2 separate regions of the Homo sapiens genome follow, and region 2 is linked to region 1. Evidence: fine-mapped expression QTL. A gene starts in region 1. The other region holds a variant in brackets. All regions are shown on one strand. Distances are between the middles of the regions.

What was found.
Region 2: its variant is fine-mapped to the expression of DCHS2 in fibroblasts (GTEx, PIP above 0.99).

What each region holds. Positions count from the first base shown.
Region 1 is chr4:154,487,364-154,495,697 of GRCh38, forward strand. It overlaps DCHS2 (dachsous cadherin-related 2), which reads right to left and starts at 4,436. Exons shown (of 20, transcript NM_001358235.2): 1 at 1,941-4,436. The coding sequence starts at 3,992. RefSeq lists enhancers at 2,264-3,220, 3,221-4,176, 3,645-3,784, 3,835-4,014, 4,817-4,866.
Region 2 is chr4:153,999,892-154,008,225 of GRCh38, forward strand. The region is part of intron 8 of LOC101927947 (a long non-coding RNA gene); the gene reads left to right. Among named protein-coding and RNA genes, the nearest start is that of SFRP2, 210 kb to the left of the region's middle. The variant T/A (reference allele first, on the strand shown) is at 5,197.

The sequences.
Region 1 (8,334 bases):
ACTCTCAGGCCTGGCTCTCTCAGACGGAGGAGAAACAGCCAAGTTGCTTCACATCAGACTCTGCTTGAGAGAGAAATATACTTTGACAGTGTTAGTCACTAATATTTGTGGATTTGTCCATTTCATCAGCAAGCATTAATTCATATCAAGCCACTTTTTAATAATCTAGCAACTCAGAGCTGGCAATCACTCTAAAGAAAGGGATGGAGATTATTATCACCCATATACCCAAAAGATTAAAATGGTGGAAGCAGTCATGAAACCCACTTTTACTTTGCAGTAGCACCTCAATTATCTAAAGGTTATTATTTGAGACATAATTTGCAAAGCTAAAGCCTGAACTCCCTAACTGAGAACCAGAAAGTAAGCAGCAAACATCTTAAAACAACCCAGGCTGAGAGCAAAATTAAGCTTTAGAGCTTCATGCCCTGGTAAGCTCTTCAGGCTAGATATATTTACTCAAGTTATTTCAGAGTAAATAAATCAGTCTTGGAACTTTGATTATCTCCCATCAGATAAGAAATAGGAAATTGGCCAGGCAAGGTGGCTTATGCCTGTAATCCCAGCACTTTGGGAGGCTGAGGCGGGAGTATCATTTGAGCCCAGGAGTTCGAGACCAGCCTGGGGAACACAGCTGGACCTCGTCCCTACACATTATTTAAAAATTAGCTAGCCATGTTGGCGCATGCCTGTGCTTGCAGCTACTTGGGAGACTGAGGTGGGAGAATCACTTTACCCTGGGAGGTCCAGGCTTCAGTGAGCCATGATTGTGCCACTGTACTCCATTTTGGGCCACAAAGCAAGACCTTGTCTCAAAAAAATAAAAAAGAAACAAATAGGAAATCGGAAGCAAAAAAAAAAGGAATGGCCTGGAAGGGGGCAAAACATGCCATTCTGATAGTGAAGGAGAGATCAGGAAAACTACAAGAGGCAAAACACCCAAATCAAAAAGCAGTGTACAGTGCCCCATTTTATAAAGGATAATTGAGTCCCACTGCCCCTCAGAGTCCTGAAAGCATCATGGAAGAAGCTTAGCTCACACCTGATGCTAACTAATAAAGATGACTTCAGTCTTCATCCAACCTTTGTAAGCTTCGAAGGAAGGTAGGAAAACATGTAAGAAGTCTCTGGAAAAGGTAACTCAAAACAGTGTCAGTGTATAAAGATATACACTTGGTCATTTTAAAAACTCACTTACGAGAACTACCTTATTCCCTAGGTTGCCTCATAAAGCTGTTAAAAAAATATATGAGACATTGCTGGGCGTGGTGGCTCACCCCTGTAATCCCAGCACTTTGGGAAGTTGAGGAGGGCAGATCACCTGAGGTCAGGAGTTCGAGACCAGCCTGGCAAACATGGTGAAACCCCATCTCCACTAAAAAAATACAGAAATTAGCCAGGTATGGTGGCAGGCAGGAGAATTGCTTGAGTCTGGGAAAAGGAGGTTGCAGTGAGCCGAGATTGAGCCACTGCACTCCAGCCTGGGCAACAGAGTGACACTCTGTTTGACAAAAATATATATATGTGTGTGTGTGTGTCTGTGTGTGTGTGTGTGTGTGTGTGTGTGTGTATACATGTATTTATATGATATGATGTGAGACATTGTCAGTTGGAAGAGGTCTGATTTAGAATGGGCAGTTCCTCCTGAACCTATTTAGGTGCATACATCCAGCAGGAAAGAAATCAGGCTTCAATAAGATAAATCAAGATCTAAAAGTCAAGTTGAAAGGACCTTAGAGATCATGTAGCCAAGACCCTGGCAAAAAAAAGTTAGGTGACTAGAGGGCATCATTCATCTCACTGTAGAGGGGGCACTACCGCCAGTCTTGTATTTGAGAGCCGGAATATTATCCTCCACATCACAATTTCCTAGGCCAACTCACAACCCTCTCCATCCCTTCCCAAGCCTTCAGGTTGGCCCACAGGCCTGATGCACTCACCTGCAGAAAGCAGTGTCCAACCGGGGCATGCTCTGCAATGGTGGCATTGTACACCTGCCTCCAGAAGATGGGCTCATTGTCATTCACATCATCTACGGTGATGCTCACCAGGCAGGTGGCAGAGAGTGGGGGCTCTCCGAGGTCCTGGGCCACCACTTTCAGCTCCACCGCCTCCTGGACCTCTCGGTCTAGAGTCCGGATAGTGCTGATCGCACCGCTTTCGGAATCAATGGCAAAAGATGGTCCACACTCTGCGGTGTGGACCATCTTTGATTGCAGGGAGCCGAGATTGCAGGGAGCCGAGAGTTGGACTACAGTGTAGCGCAGCCAGGCGTGATCACTGCCTGCCTCGTCGGCATCGGAGGCGCTGACCCACATGACTACAGTGCCAGGGGCCGCGGCCTCGGACACTGAGGCCTTGTAATGCTGTTGGCTGAAGAGAGGTGGTTGGTCATTGAGGTCAGCGACCCGGAGTAGCAGCGTCTCCTCCGTGCTCAGCGGCGGGGACCCCGCGTCCGTGGCCACCAGTAGTAACTCATACAGATCGCGGCTCTCTCTGTCCAGGGGCCCCTCCACGCAAAGGAAAAATACCCCTGGGGGGCCGCCGGGTAGCAACGCGAAGTCTCCCTCTCCGCCTTCCAAGGACAGAGAGATGCTCCCGTCTCCAAGACCCACACCAAGCTCCCCTGTGGCCTCATCTTCCTTCTCCCAGTCACCGTCCGCGTCAGACACCGAGACGCGAGCCACGTAGTCGCCCGGTCGGGCGCCTTCAGAGACACGGGCGACGCCTCCCTCTGTGAGAAAGAGCACGTGAATTGCTGGCCGGTTGTCATTCACGTCCAGCACGGCGATGGACACGCGCACCGTGGCAACCTCAGGCTCGGCGCCTCCATCGCGGGCCTCCACCACCAACTGGTGCCAGGCCTGTGCCTCGCGGTCCAGAGGTCTCCACACTCGCACCACGCCGCTCAGCTCCTCCACCGCGAAGTAGGCCGCGTCGCCCAGTGCCCCGCCGCCGCTACCCGCCCCAGGCACTTGCCGGGCGCGGACGCTGTAGCGCACGAAGCCATTGGGCCCCAGGTCGCGGTCGGTGGCGCGCACGCGACAGACCTCGGCGCCCGGCTGGGCGTCCTCGCGCACCGCGGCGCGGTACTCGTCCTGCTCAAAGACCGGCGGGTTGTCGTTCTCATCCAGCACGCGCAGCTCCACGCTCAGGAGGCCGGTGCGCCGGGGTCGGCCGCCGTCCCATGCCTCGATCTGCAGCCGGTGCGCCGCCGCCTCCTCTCGGTCCAAGCGCCGCAGCAGCACCAGATCTAGAGGCTCCAGGGGTGACGAGGAGCCTGGCAAAAGCGGTGACGGTAGTGGCCCCGGAGTCCGGTAGCGCAACTGGAAGAACGGGCCTGCGGGGTCCTTGGGCAGGTCGGACGGTTGCACCAGGGTGTAGCCCTGAGTGCTGAACAGTCCGGCGTCCGGATCGTGGGCAACTGGCAGGCGGAAGGCGGTCCCTGGCGGGCTGAGCTCGGAGACGTCGAGTTGCAGGGAGTCGAGGGGAAAGCGGGGCGAGTGGTCATTCACGTCGTTGACGCGAATCTCCACCTGCACCACAGCGCCCAGCAGCGTGGCGGCGACGAAGCTGTAGTGGTCCCGCCGCTCGCGGTCCAGGCGCCGCGCAGTGCGGATGATGCCGGTGTCCGGGTGCACGTGGAAGTCGTCCAGCAGCGGGGAGTCATCGGAGTCCTCCGACAGAAAGAAGCCGCTCCCCTCCTGCTGCTGCGCGGCCGGCAGCCCGGCGCGGATGTCACCTACCAGCGTGTCCGGGGGAAGCCCCTCATCTACGGAAAGGGTGAGGTTGAACAACTGGGCAGAGGAGCCCGAGGCCGCCCACAGCCACACGTGCACCAAGAGCCAGAGCAGGGAGCGCTGCGTCCTGGCGCCGCTGCTGCCTGACCGCCCATGGGGTGTATCTCTCCTCCCGGGGAGCAGAAGGAGCTTCCCGACCGGAGCCCGCCGCTGCTGACGCCCTTCGCCCATCTTCCGCCCACAAGGGCTCATTTCTCCTCCAGCTCCTTGGGAAGGCTCTCGGGTAACTGCCAGCTTGTGGCAGGATCGCAGAAAAATCCAGGAGCCTCTTCAGTGTCTGAGCCAGAGAAGAAAAGACTTTGTTTGGCAAACAAACCGACGGCCCAGGAATTCCCGAGGTTACATCTGCAACTGGTGAAAGCGTCCTCTGCCTGCAGCTCACGCAGACAGGGAAGTAAGCTCTAGCTGCCTCTGCCGCGGCAGCCACCTCTTCTGCCCCTGGATTTCTTTAAACGAATCTCATCTCTTTTTCTCTCTCCTTTTATTCCCTTTACATCTGTTCCTTGTTCTACTCGGCTGGTTGTTCCCCCCTGGTAAAGTCAGGTGCATTATTTCTTTTGCCAAAAAGGAGGAGATTATATGAAGCGCGCACACACAAGGAGAGGATGGGGATCTGGCCGGAGTAGGGGGTGGAGTAAGGGCGTGGAGGCAGGGAGTCAGGGCGCTGGGGAGGAGGGAGAGAGGGAGGGGGGAAGGGAGGTCTGCGGCCCTGTCCGCTGCTCCGGGGGCGGGGCGGTGGTTCCCCACTGTGTCTCCGGGCGCCAGGGACCGCGCGACTCCTGCTCCGACCCAGCCTCCGCCGCCTGCCTTCCCCTCCCTGCCGTGTGATGCGGCGCACACGAGGGCAAACTCCAACCTGCGAGCCGCGCTCTGCAGCAGGGCGGAAGAGGAGCAAATGCAAAAGCACTGGGAGACGTGCACCGCGGGGCGGGTGGGGGACGCGCAGGCGGGGCGTCTGCCTGGGCTTGGCCAAGTGCCAAGTGATGATGGGTGCGGGGAGGTGAGAGGAGCGGCCTCTCCGCGGCCTCCCCCTCCATCCGCTTGACCGTCCCTCTGCAGGCCTGACTCTTGGCTCGCGCTGAGCCAAGAGGGTAGAGGTTATCATCACTTTGGGGTGCCAAACTTGTGTTCTCCATTTGGCGAGAGGGACTCCCGTCCGCAGCGGAAGGACAGATGGAGTCAAAGGCCGATGCATAGCTGGGGCCAGGATGGCTTTAAAGGGGAGAAGGCGGAACTTGGAAAAGCCTTCCAGAAAACCCGAGAAATCTGTGGCACACATGGTGCAAACCACACTTTATTATGCGTGCTACTACCCAGCGACGTGTGAGCCTCTTGTCACTCCCCTCTGCCACCAGGAATGACGACAATATATCCGCCCTGAGAACCCTTTTTCTACATTCAGCGCCATCATAACACTTCCAGGATGTCTGACGATGCTGACTGATGAGCAGAAAGCCCTGGTGGCTGACACCCCGCAAGCCCTCAGCGCTCCCCCACCACCCCTAGGCAAGGAAGTGTGCAAGCGGGATAACTCTACGGATACCACTTTCAAAACTAGCTTCTGTCTGAGCCGAACGCAAATGCCAATAAATAGCCATAGTCGCAGATTTCCCTTCAATTAACTATAATAATCGGTAGAAACTGATCAATGGCCTCTAATAAAGTACGCCTGAGAAAAGACTCTCTGGACTCTTAAAAATGGCTGACCATATTTAGCAAGTGGTTTCTGCAATTTTGCATTTGGGCCTGAGAGAAGAATTAATTTCCTAGATACCGTTTCTCTCCTTTAGGGAGGACCAAAAGCCCTGCATAGTGGTTTCTTGCAGCAACAACAAAATGCCTTTTTAAATGTGCAACGGAGGTGTATGTAATTGCTAATCCACAGCCACACCGTTATCTCTACCTGTGACCAAATAACAATAAAATAATTGACTTTGTAGCATATATGTTACCGAAAATGGGGACATTATTAAAATAAATTCAGCTTTCTTTCCCCCAATGAACTCTCTTTAACCATTAAAGAGATTTGTTATGAGTCTTTAGAGTCTTTTTATCTTCAGTCTCTGCATTTGCACCCTAACTAGTCCCTCCCCTCCCACTCTTGCCCCTTTATAAGTAATTCTTTTCTGTTTTTGCTATTGTTGTTGTTGTTGCTGTTTTGTTTTCTGAGTCAGGATCTCACTCTGTCACCCAGGCTGGAGTGCGGTGGTGCAATCATGGCGCACTGCAACCTCATGGACTCAAGTGATTCCATCACCTCAGCTTCCAGAGTAGCTGGGACTATGGGTGCCCACCACTATACCTGGCAAATTTTATATTATTTTATTAATTTATTTGTTTATTTTTTTTACTTTTGTAGAGATGAGGTCTCACTATATTGCCCAGGCTCGTCTCGAACTCCTGGGGCCAGTCTTCCTGCCTAGGCCTCCCAAAGTGCTGGGATTACAGGCTTGAGCCACCGCAACCAGCCTATAAGTAATTCTTGAACAAGCATCTGGATTAATGTTTTTAAAGCTGTCTCAAATCATATTACCTCCTGCTTAGAACCTGAAATGATTCCATTATACTTAGATTATAATTCAGACTCCTTCAATCAAGCTCCTTTTAGTAGTACAGGATCCTATCCATCTTTCTGACCTTGCCTCATACCACCACTCTGGACTCAGCCATCTGCCTTCTTTTTGATCTTGTACCTTTGAATTGTTAGAACTTTCCATGCCTGGGAGTTCTTTTTTCTGCTTTGGAAAGAGCTAGCTCTTTCTCATTCAGGTCTCAACTCCAATGCCCTCTGTTAAGAAAGATCTTCCCTAATTACCCTATTTCAGATAGCCTTTCTACTATAAATGCTATATCCTTTCAGTATATTTCATTCACAACACCTATCAGCATCTGAAATCAACTTGCTTTTTTCATTTGTTTATTAGATTATTACAACCTCAAAACCTTCATTCTGCTTTATCTCAGCACCTAGAACAGTACCTAGCATGTAGTGTGTCTCTATTTACTAAGTATGTGTTGGACAGACGGTTGGTTGAACCTATGGGTAAGTGAATGCATTTGTCTGTTAAAGTAGAAGTTGGAAGCCATAACCAAGAATGAATTGGCCATGAGAATCTTCACTGTAATGAATTATGTCTTTGCAATCTTACTCATCTTAATTATTTCATAGGACTTCTTGAACTTATTTTTCAGCTTCGTCAACTTACTTTGTAAACCATTGTATTAGTCTGTTCTTGCATTGCTGTAAAGAACCTGAGACTGGGTAATTTATAAAGAAAAAATGTTTAATTGGCTCATGGTTCTGCAGGCTGTACAGGAAGCATGGTGGGATCAGTTTCTGGGGAGGCCTCAGGAAACTTACAATCATAGCAGAAAGTGAAGGGGAAGTAGGCAGGAGGAAGAAAATGAATGGGGAGGTGCTATACACTTTTAAACAAACACATCTCATGAGAACTCACTCACTCTCATGAGGACAGCATCAGGGAATGGTGCTAAAGCATTCATAAGAAACTGCCTCATGATCCAGTCACCTCCCACCAGGTCCCACCTCTAACACTGGGGATTACCATTCAACATGAGATTTGGGCAGGGACACAGATCCAAACCATATCAACCATATTGTTAACAAATATTTACTTGAGTCTAAAAATAAAGGAAAAGAAGCATCTTTTACTGCATCTTTCACTGACACATTCTTTGTAAACAGTGGTTTAGTTTAGAAACAGTGGAAAACAAATGGAAAATCAAGAACCTCAGACATCTATTTTCCTATTAGTTCTAAAGCTTTATATCTCCAGCATGTACAATTCAAGGTCTCCTGTCCATTTCACAATTACCCTTCATTGAATGTCCTGAATATCCTTAATTATAGAATTAAGAATTCAATTTTGTAAAGTAAGAGAAATAAGAGCATTTCTCAGATATGTGAAAAATAATTTTAGATAATACAGAAGCCAACAGCCTGCAAGAAATAGGTCAAGGTCTGATCCTTGTAAGCGAAGCATCATGGCGTAACTGGCCAGAGTTTTAGCTTTAAAGTTGGAAAATCCTTATTCTGCTCTATAATTTGGGGCAAGTTATTTAAATCTTAAGCCTTAGAGTTTCCTCCTTTCTAAATTGGGGATGATACATCTAATTTACAGGGATGTCATGGGCCTTAAATGAGGCAATATATGTGGATTGGTACCTAGAATGCATGTGGTAAATTGTATTTTTCTTGCCCTCTGGTGTTTGTATGATGAAATGTTTTAGGAGTGAATTATTTTGGAATTCTCAGTAATATCAAACTCCGACTTCTTAGCCCCCCAGAAGGTGTGAAGGGGGAGGATATAAAATTCCCACTATCTGGCTGGATGCAGTGGCTCATGCCTGTAATCCCAGCATTTTCAGAGGCCAAGGCAGGAGGATTGCTTGAGCCCGGGAAGTAAAAACCAGCCTAGGCAATGTGGCAAGACCTTCTCTCTACAAAAAAAAAAAAAAAAAAAAAAAATTTAAAAATAGCCAGGCACGCTGATGCATACCTGTAAGTCCCAGC
Region 2 (8,334 bases), 490 kb before region 1:
TTAGTTTTATGGTCACTGCCAGCACCCATCAGGATGCAGATGTTTTGTGAAATTCAGAGACATTCTCTTCCTAGTGTATCTGCTAAAACACAAACTCAAACCTACCCTTGAAGTCACCTTTTTTTTCAGCACTATGTTATAAAAACATGCCAGAGGTGGAAAAATTTATCAACCTTCCAAGCCTTTTCATATATATATACATACATATACACAAATGTTTCAGAATAAGAAAATGTCAACTTTTCATGGACAACAATATGCAGGCAACAGTCATGCCTCTCAGGGAGGTTACCGAGAGCTTCATCACTGCCTGGGCAGGTGTGAGGTGGCCCAGGGAAAGGGGGCTCAGCATGAAGTCATGAGCAGTTGACCATCTTTATCGAGTATGTGTGTGTGTGTGTGTGTGCATGAGAGAGAGAGAGAGAGAGAGAGAGAGAGGAATTTTTTTTTGGCTAGGTTGCTCTGGATTCTGTCAAAATGACATTCATGCTTCTCATGGTCCCCACCAACACTCCAGAAGAGATGAGAGCAAAATGCAATAAAATCAAATCCAGGTCCACATGGCAGCCCTTCCCATAGATGGTTTTGTTTTTCAAGATCATGAAAATGACACAGGCTAAGAATTCCCAAGCCCATCCAGAACAAAAATCTAGCGTACTTGAGATTAAAAAGCTTGCTCTAAAATGAATTTTAATTTCTTTTATCTTCTACTCTTCCTTCTCATCCCTCCTACCTTCCCATCCCTTCTTTTCCTCTTTCTGTTTCCTCTCTTCTTTCTCCTTCTTATTTCCAGGAAAGGAAGGAATGTTGGGGGTCAGGAATCAGATAGTTGTGAAAGTTCTGCTCTGGTGCTGTTACTATGGTTTGAATGTATTGGAAACTTAATCCCCAAATTCATATATTGATTGGACATTGGGCCTTCTGGAGGAAATTAGGTTTAGATAAGATCATCAGGGTGGGGGGGGGGGCAAAATGGGATGGGTGGCTTTATAAGAAGAAAAAGAAAGACTCTAGCTGACCTGCACATTCTTGCTCTCACCACGTGATGCCCTCCACTGTGTTATGATGCAGTGAGAAGTCCCTCACTGGATGTCAGCCTTAAACTTCCCAGCCTCCAGAACCAGAAGAAATAATTCTTTATAAATCACCCAATCTAAGGTATTCTGTCATAGGAACGGACAACAGACTGAGATGGCTGTTATTTTAAGAAATAAAGCTGGCATATATTCCCCTCACTCAAAGTACTTCTAAAATGCAGATGTCCACCACCAAAGGGCATTGCATGTAGGTGCATATGCACAAACATAGACATCACCATTGCTAAATAGCAGGTACCATGGAGAACAGAGCAATGAACCATTTCCTCATATGGAAAGAAAATACCTAATAAAACCCAAGCAAAGAGTCCAAAATAGCTCCACTTTATTTTTGAGCACTCTTATGTAGAACCATTTAGCCAGGGCCAGGAATAATTGGTGCCAGGTGCCTTGTAGAGATGCCAGGTTCATGGATTTCTCACTCTCTTTATGGGAGGATGACTTAATAACACATCTTTGTCTGCTGAATGTTTGAATCTTATTTCTGAGATTATACCCAAAGATGGCAGCCCTCCTCTGCATGAGTAAATCACATTGAAAATAGGAAAAAGAGTCCAGGCAATCAATGCCTGTCTCAGCTGAAACATAATTATAAGTCCACTGTGCTTAGAGGTAATACTTTATTAAAAAGAATATCAGGACTGGGTGCAGTGACTCATGCCTGTAATCCCAACACTTTGGGAAGCCGATGCGGGCAGATCACAAGGTCAGGAGTTCGAGACCAGCCTGGCCAATGTAGTGAAACCCTGTCTCTACTAAAAATACAAAAAATTAGCTGGGCGTGGTGGTGGGTGCCTGTAATTCCAGCTACTTGGGAGGCTGAGGCAGGAGAATCGCTTGAACCTGGGAAGCAGAGGTGGCAGTGAGCCAAGATTGTGCCATTGCACTCCAGCCTGGCAACAGTGCGAGACTCCATCTCAAAAAAAAAAAAAAAAAACAAAAAAAAAAACTCTCTCTCTTTATATATATATGTATATATACATATATATATATACATATATATATGTATATATATATGTATATATATATATATATATATGTATATATATCAGAGCTACATTTTTGGTTTGGTGGCTAAGTCATAATTGTAGAAATCTATTTTCCAATAAATCCTTCCCTTGAACCTAAATATATAAAAGAGATAATGTGTGGAGCTGCTCTGGTTATATTGGGGGTTGGGGGTCCAAGGCATTGCCCATTTAGCTTCTTCCTTGGCTCCCACTTAAGCCACTACTCACCCTCCCCATAAGCTCCCCATGGAGCTCCTCTAACAGAGCGTGAAGAGTACTGACTGTTATGCTGGTTATTAGTGAATACATAGTACCCATTACTACACAGGGGGAAACTGAGGCCTGGAAAATGAAGTGTGATGCCAAAGTGTTGGAGCTGGTGCTGCTGCTGGGACCTGCCACCTCCTGTAGAGCACTAAGTGTCAGCGAGCACTAAGTATCATACTCTGTGACCCTTAGCAAGGCAGCCCCTCTTGGGACAGCACATGCACCCTGCTCCCCAACAGGAAGCGAACATTTAAACTAGTTTGACCTTGAATGTAAAGTCATGGAGTGAAATAGTCTACTTAGCAGAGCCCTTCAGGGTGTTCTCCTTTTCCTGTCAATTTGGTATTTTAGTTTTGGAAAACAAAAATATTCTGTAAGAGGAGCTCTGATTTGGTTCACAAGCCTGTGCTAGTAATAGGAGAACTTGGATAGCCAGGCATCCTACTGTCTTGCTCCTCCACACCCCTGCTTCCTCACCTTTGCCAGGTGCCACCTGGCCTGGTGGAATGGTGGGCAAGTACTGCAAGAACATGCTCTAAGCCACGGGGTGGTGCAGCCTGCCCGCCCAGGCCCCTTGGCAGGAAGCTGGCAAACAGGCATCTCATCTCAGAGACAGGACAGTGAAGTGGACAGACTCCTCTGTGTGTGTGTGTGTGTGTGTGTGTGTGTGTGTGTGTGTGTGTGTGTGCGCGCGCGCGCGCGCGCGCACTTAAATAGCATGATTTTCCTCTCTAATTAAAAAAATGAAATTTACAAGGAAAATTTATACCATATAATAAGGATAAAGAGAACGTCACTATATAGAGAAGCATTTTTTTTTTTTTGAAACGGAGTCTCGCTTTGTCGCCCAGGCTGGAGTGCAGTGGTGTGATCTCGGCTCACTGCAACCTCCGCCTCCCAGGTTCATGCCGTTCTCCTGCCTCAGCCTCCTGAGTAGCTGGGACTACAGGTGCCTGCCACCATGCCTGGCTAATTTTTTGTATTTTTAGTAGAGATGGGGTTTCACCATGTTAGCCAGGATGGTCTCGATCCCCTGACCTTGTGATCTGCCCGCCTCAGCCTCCCAAAGTGTTGGGATTACAGGCAAGAAGCATTTTAAAATACATATCCTTAGATTCTTTCTTTCCTTCCCTCCCTCCTGTCTTTATTTTCTCTCTTCCTACTTTTTTTTCACTATTTCATTTTGCCAAAATGAGATCATACTGCTTGTGATCCCCTTTTATTTACTTCATGTATTGTGAACACATTTTTTGTGATAAATACATAATAATGTGTACTTATTATTGGTTTAGAAGTATTCCTTTGTGCTGTAACTCATTCAAGTACATTTCTACTTTTTAACCTTTGTTTTTTCTGCCTTTATAAATAACATTTTTGTTACTAGTTTGAGTCCTAAATCATTGCATGTTTCTCTAGCAGGAATTCCTAGAGGTGGAATTGGTGGATATATAAGAAGAACTGTAGCGATTGTGAATAACCAGAACTATGGAACTGACTCTTCTGTCCTTAAACATTTGCTAATTACCGCACCCGACCAGCCCAATCCAGGCAGGCGGTTGATGGCAGCTCTTGGCAATCGATGCCCTCTCCATTTATCAAAGAGATAAATGGAATCATCAAATAGGAAATTCATTATTTTAAAGAGTTCATCTAAAATGGGGTCAGAGAGAGAATGTGACAAAGTCGAAAAAGCAGGCCCCTCAGAGGAGAAGGGGAAGGGGCAGGGGTGAAATGGAAATTCTCCAATTCCTCAGGCTTCCCTTTGTCCTTCCCTTGAAATCTTGTGCATCCGCCCTGACTCCAGGCCTCCTCAGCAGATGGTGCCAGGCAGCACCTTCCATTCCCTGCCCAGGGAGGTGACAAAGTTCCGGCTAGCGTGACCACAGGATGGATCTCCATTACTTCTTAGCTGATCCATGTTAAACTCAAGATGACTGTGGTCAGACTTAGTTTTCCACCGAGATTTAATTAACAAATTTTCTGGGCTGTGTTCCCTGGGGCATATTTAGAGTCATGCTCAATGTCTAACTTTCTGGGGAGTTTTCAGCTCGATGAACTTCTTTCTACTTGGACATAGCACATAGCCACAGAAATGTGTGGGGAGACTAGTGCATGAGAAGAAGCCAGCATATAACTCTGTGAATAGAAGCTCTTTCTATGTACAGGTATTTGGGGAGCAAAGGCCTCCTTTCTGCTCCTCGAGGCGGGGGGTGTGACTGGTTTCGAGAGGTGGGCTCTGTCGGTGTTGGTAGACAGGCCACCTTAACCTCCCTCAAAGGGGCAGTGGAGCAGGCTAATGAGTATCCTCTGCGAGCTTGAGAGGTGCACATGCATTCACTTAAAGCAAGGTGGGCCCCTGCCAATTTGTCCAGATTCACTGCCAGTTGGCAGTAAGATTGAATCCTGAGGAGAGACAGAGAGAGTGGAAGGCCTGGCCTGGGGTTCTGGCCTGACCAGCGAGCAGTAGCTTTCATGTATGGGGAGGCCACGTTTCAGCATAGATGGGCCGAGATGGGCCCAGTCTCTAGCAATTACCTTCATGGTTTTCTGCCAGAGGCTATTTTTTTCCAAGGGAAAACTTCCCATTTGTTTTTTGTATTTTTAAAGTGTGTGTGTGCGTGTTTGCTCTTTGTGCTAAGGGTACATGTTCAGCAGAAGGAATTGGCAGGAGCACACGCTCCCTCTCTCTCTCACTTTGCATGCTTGACCCTGAGACCTTGTGTTCTCCTGAAGCCTCTGCCACGCAATCTCTTCCATCTTCTTCCTGTCTGATGATTTCCCCTGGACTCTCCCATGGGCATTTTTATGTCAATAGATTGGAA[T/A]GTTTCTCTCCTCACTGGGAAAAGCTCCTTTGGTCTCAGTGAACTCAGAGGTGGAGAAAGTCATAAGAATCAGGGAGCCTGCCCCAAATTGCCTCCTATGATAACTTTCCACAAAGACTGGAGGGGAGGCTTCAAACATCTTCCTGCAGTGTCCAGCAAGACAGCGAGGCAGACTCCCTTTCTCCTGCCAAAGCCACGTGGAGCCAGACAGAACCACAAGCATACCTGTGGTGCTTGGAGGCCCAAGTAGAAACTTGAATGCTCACGGCTGCATTGGCAGCTTCTACTTGCCTGCCTGGATCACCGTTCCTCATGAGAACTTGGAAAAGCAGGACTATCATTCTTGCTTGACAGACGAAGAAACCAAGCCTCAGGTAGGTAGTTAGTTTCCCAAAGTAACATATTGTAGTGGATGGCAGGGTGGATGTGACAGTCAGCTTTGTTTGACTTTCAACTGAGTGGCATTATAAGGTTGCACTGGTCACATGGGAGACCTGACCATCCTGGGGACCCTGAAACACCTAGGCCTAGCCAATCATTAAGGCAGTTCATACCCAAAGCAGGATAGTTGGTGATCTGATTTTAGGTGGCACCAGGAAACTCCAACACTACCCTTGTGAGGTTCCATAATTTAGTGTCATTCTTTGGTTAATGGATTGTCTGCAATTACAATGAAAATATCTTTGTGTCTATAATCATTTAAGCAGTCATTTCCATCTAAGTGTGAATTAATTTATTGTCTTATTCAATGTAACAGCTAGCTGAGGCTTGATTTTATTTTCCTTCATGCATTTATTCTTTCAATTGGTATGCATTTAATGACCATCTGAGGACAAGATACTATGTGAGTTCAAGGAGGAGTAAGACATGCACTCTGCCCTAAATGAACTTACAGGTTAAAAGGGAACTGAAGTCACCATAAAGCAGCATACAGTAAGTGACATAAGAACAGCACAAATAGAAAAAAATCAATTGAGGGCAGGAACTGAGGTGTTTAGGGAGCACCCACTGGGGGAACCAACATGTGGGATGAGTCTTTGTGAAGGATGGTCATGATTTCAACTAGAACCTGTAGTGTTACAGAAGGCAGGCAGAGAAGGGAGAGGAAGGCATTGCCGGAGGGAAGGCAAGGAGCAAAGACATGGGGTAAGAAACTGACATGTTTGTTTGGGGCATTCACATGGTTCCCTTTAACTTAAGTATAGGGTATGTGGAGGGGAGTAACAAGAGATAAAGATAAAAGGTGTTTTGAGGCCTATATTTAGAAGACTGTCAGTGCCAGGCTAAGGAGGATGGTGTCTTACCTGGTCGGCAGTGGGAGCCTTTGAAAGTGTGTGAACAGTAAAGCGCCAGGACTCCAACTGTGTGCTAGGAATCATGGGTCAGAGGTTCCTGGAGAATGTTTATTTCAAGCTGAAATAATCAAGGCCTGAGCTTAAATAATAGTGGTGAGAACTGCCAGGAGGGAATGGTGCAGAAGATAGCCCGATATTGTGATATAATACAAAAATATATCCTTGTCTTCAGCCCTGGCTCTAGTTCCTTACATGGAGCTCTTAAAACCTTTGGAATTCCCTGAACGATGGGATGAGAGGAGTGTGTTATTTTATTCGTAAGCCCCTTTCAACCACACATGAGTGGATGCTAGTGAGATGGCTGGGGGTTGGGGGACTCTAGATAGCTTCTGGCTGGGGGCTGGTTCCCAGGAAGACCAAGACAGGATAAAAGAGTTGGAACTTTCAACCTCACTTCCACCCCTCAACCTCTGAAGAAAGAAGAGGAGATACAGACTGAGTCAATTGCCAATGGCCAATGATTTAATCAGTTATGCCTATGTAATGAAACCTCCATAAAATCCCCAAACAATGGGATTTGAAGGGCTTCTTGGTCAGCAAACACATCAACGTGTGAAGAGGGCACAGAAGCTCCATGTCCTCACCCCCATCGCCGGCCCTATGCATCTCTTCCATTTGGTTTTTCCTGAGTTGTAGCTTTTATAATACATAAGCAATGGGAAGTAAACTGGTTTTCTGAGTTCTGTGAGCTGTTCTAGCAAACCATTGAAACTGAGGAAGGGGTTGTGGGAACCTCTGACTTTATGACTGTTTTATCAGAAGTATGGGTGGCTGGGACTTGTGATTGGTGTCTGAAGTGGGACAGTCTTGTGGGACTGAGGCCGTAACCTGTGGGGTCTGAATTAACTCTGGGTACCTAGTGTCAGAATGGAATTTAATCATTGGATACCCAGTTGGTGTCTGGAAAGCTGGAGAACTGGTTGTGGGTGTGGAAAAAAACTTACATATTTTGGTGTCAGGGTGTTGTGAGTAGAAACAGATCATGTCAACAGATGGGCTCTTTTTTTAAAAAAAATTTTTTTACATTTCTTTTTTTCCTTCTACATTTTTTCTCTTTAAGCTTTATTTTTGATACACAATAATTGTATATATTTATGGGGTACAGTGTGATGTTTTGTTACATGTATGCAATGTGCAATGATCAAATCAGCACAATTGGGATATCCATCACTTCAAATATTTATTATTTCTTTTGGTGAGAACATTCCAAATCTTCTTTTCTAGCTATGTAAAAATATACAGTAAATTACTGTGAACTATAGTCACCTTATTATGCTACTGAACACTAGATTATATTCCTTCTATAATATCTAAGTGTGTTTTCGTTCCCACTCCCCCTCCTCACTACCCTCTGAGCCTCTAATAACTATCATTCTATTTGCTATCTCCATGTGATTCATTTATTTAGACTCCATATATAAGTGAGAACATGTGACATTTGTCTTTCTGTGCTTGGCTTATTTTACTTAACACAATGTCCTCCAGTTCCATCCATGTTGTTGTGGATGGCAGGATTTTGTCCTTTTTTACAGCTAAATAGTATTCCATTGTGTATATATATGAGATTTTCTTTATGCATTCATCCTTTGATGGATACTTCAGTTGATTCCATATCTTGGCTATTGTGAAGAGTGCTGTGGTAAACGTGGGAGTGCAGATATTTCTTCAAAATATTTGACTTCCTTTCCTTTGGCTACATACACAGTAGTGGATTGCTGGATCATATAGTAGTTTATATTCTTAATTTTTTGAGGGAACACTATACTATTTTCTGTAATGACTG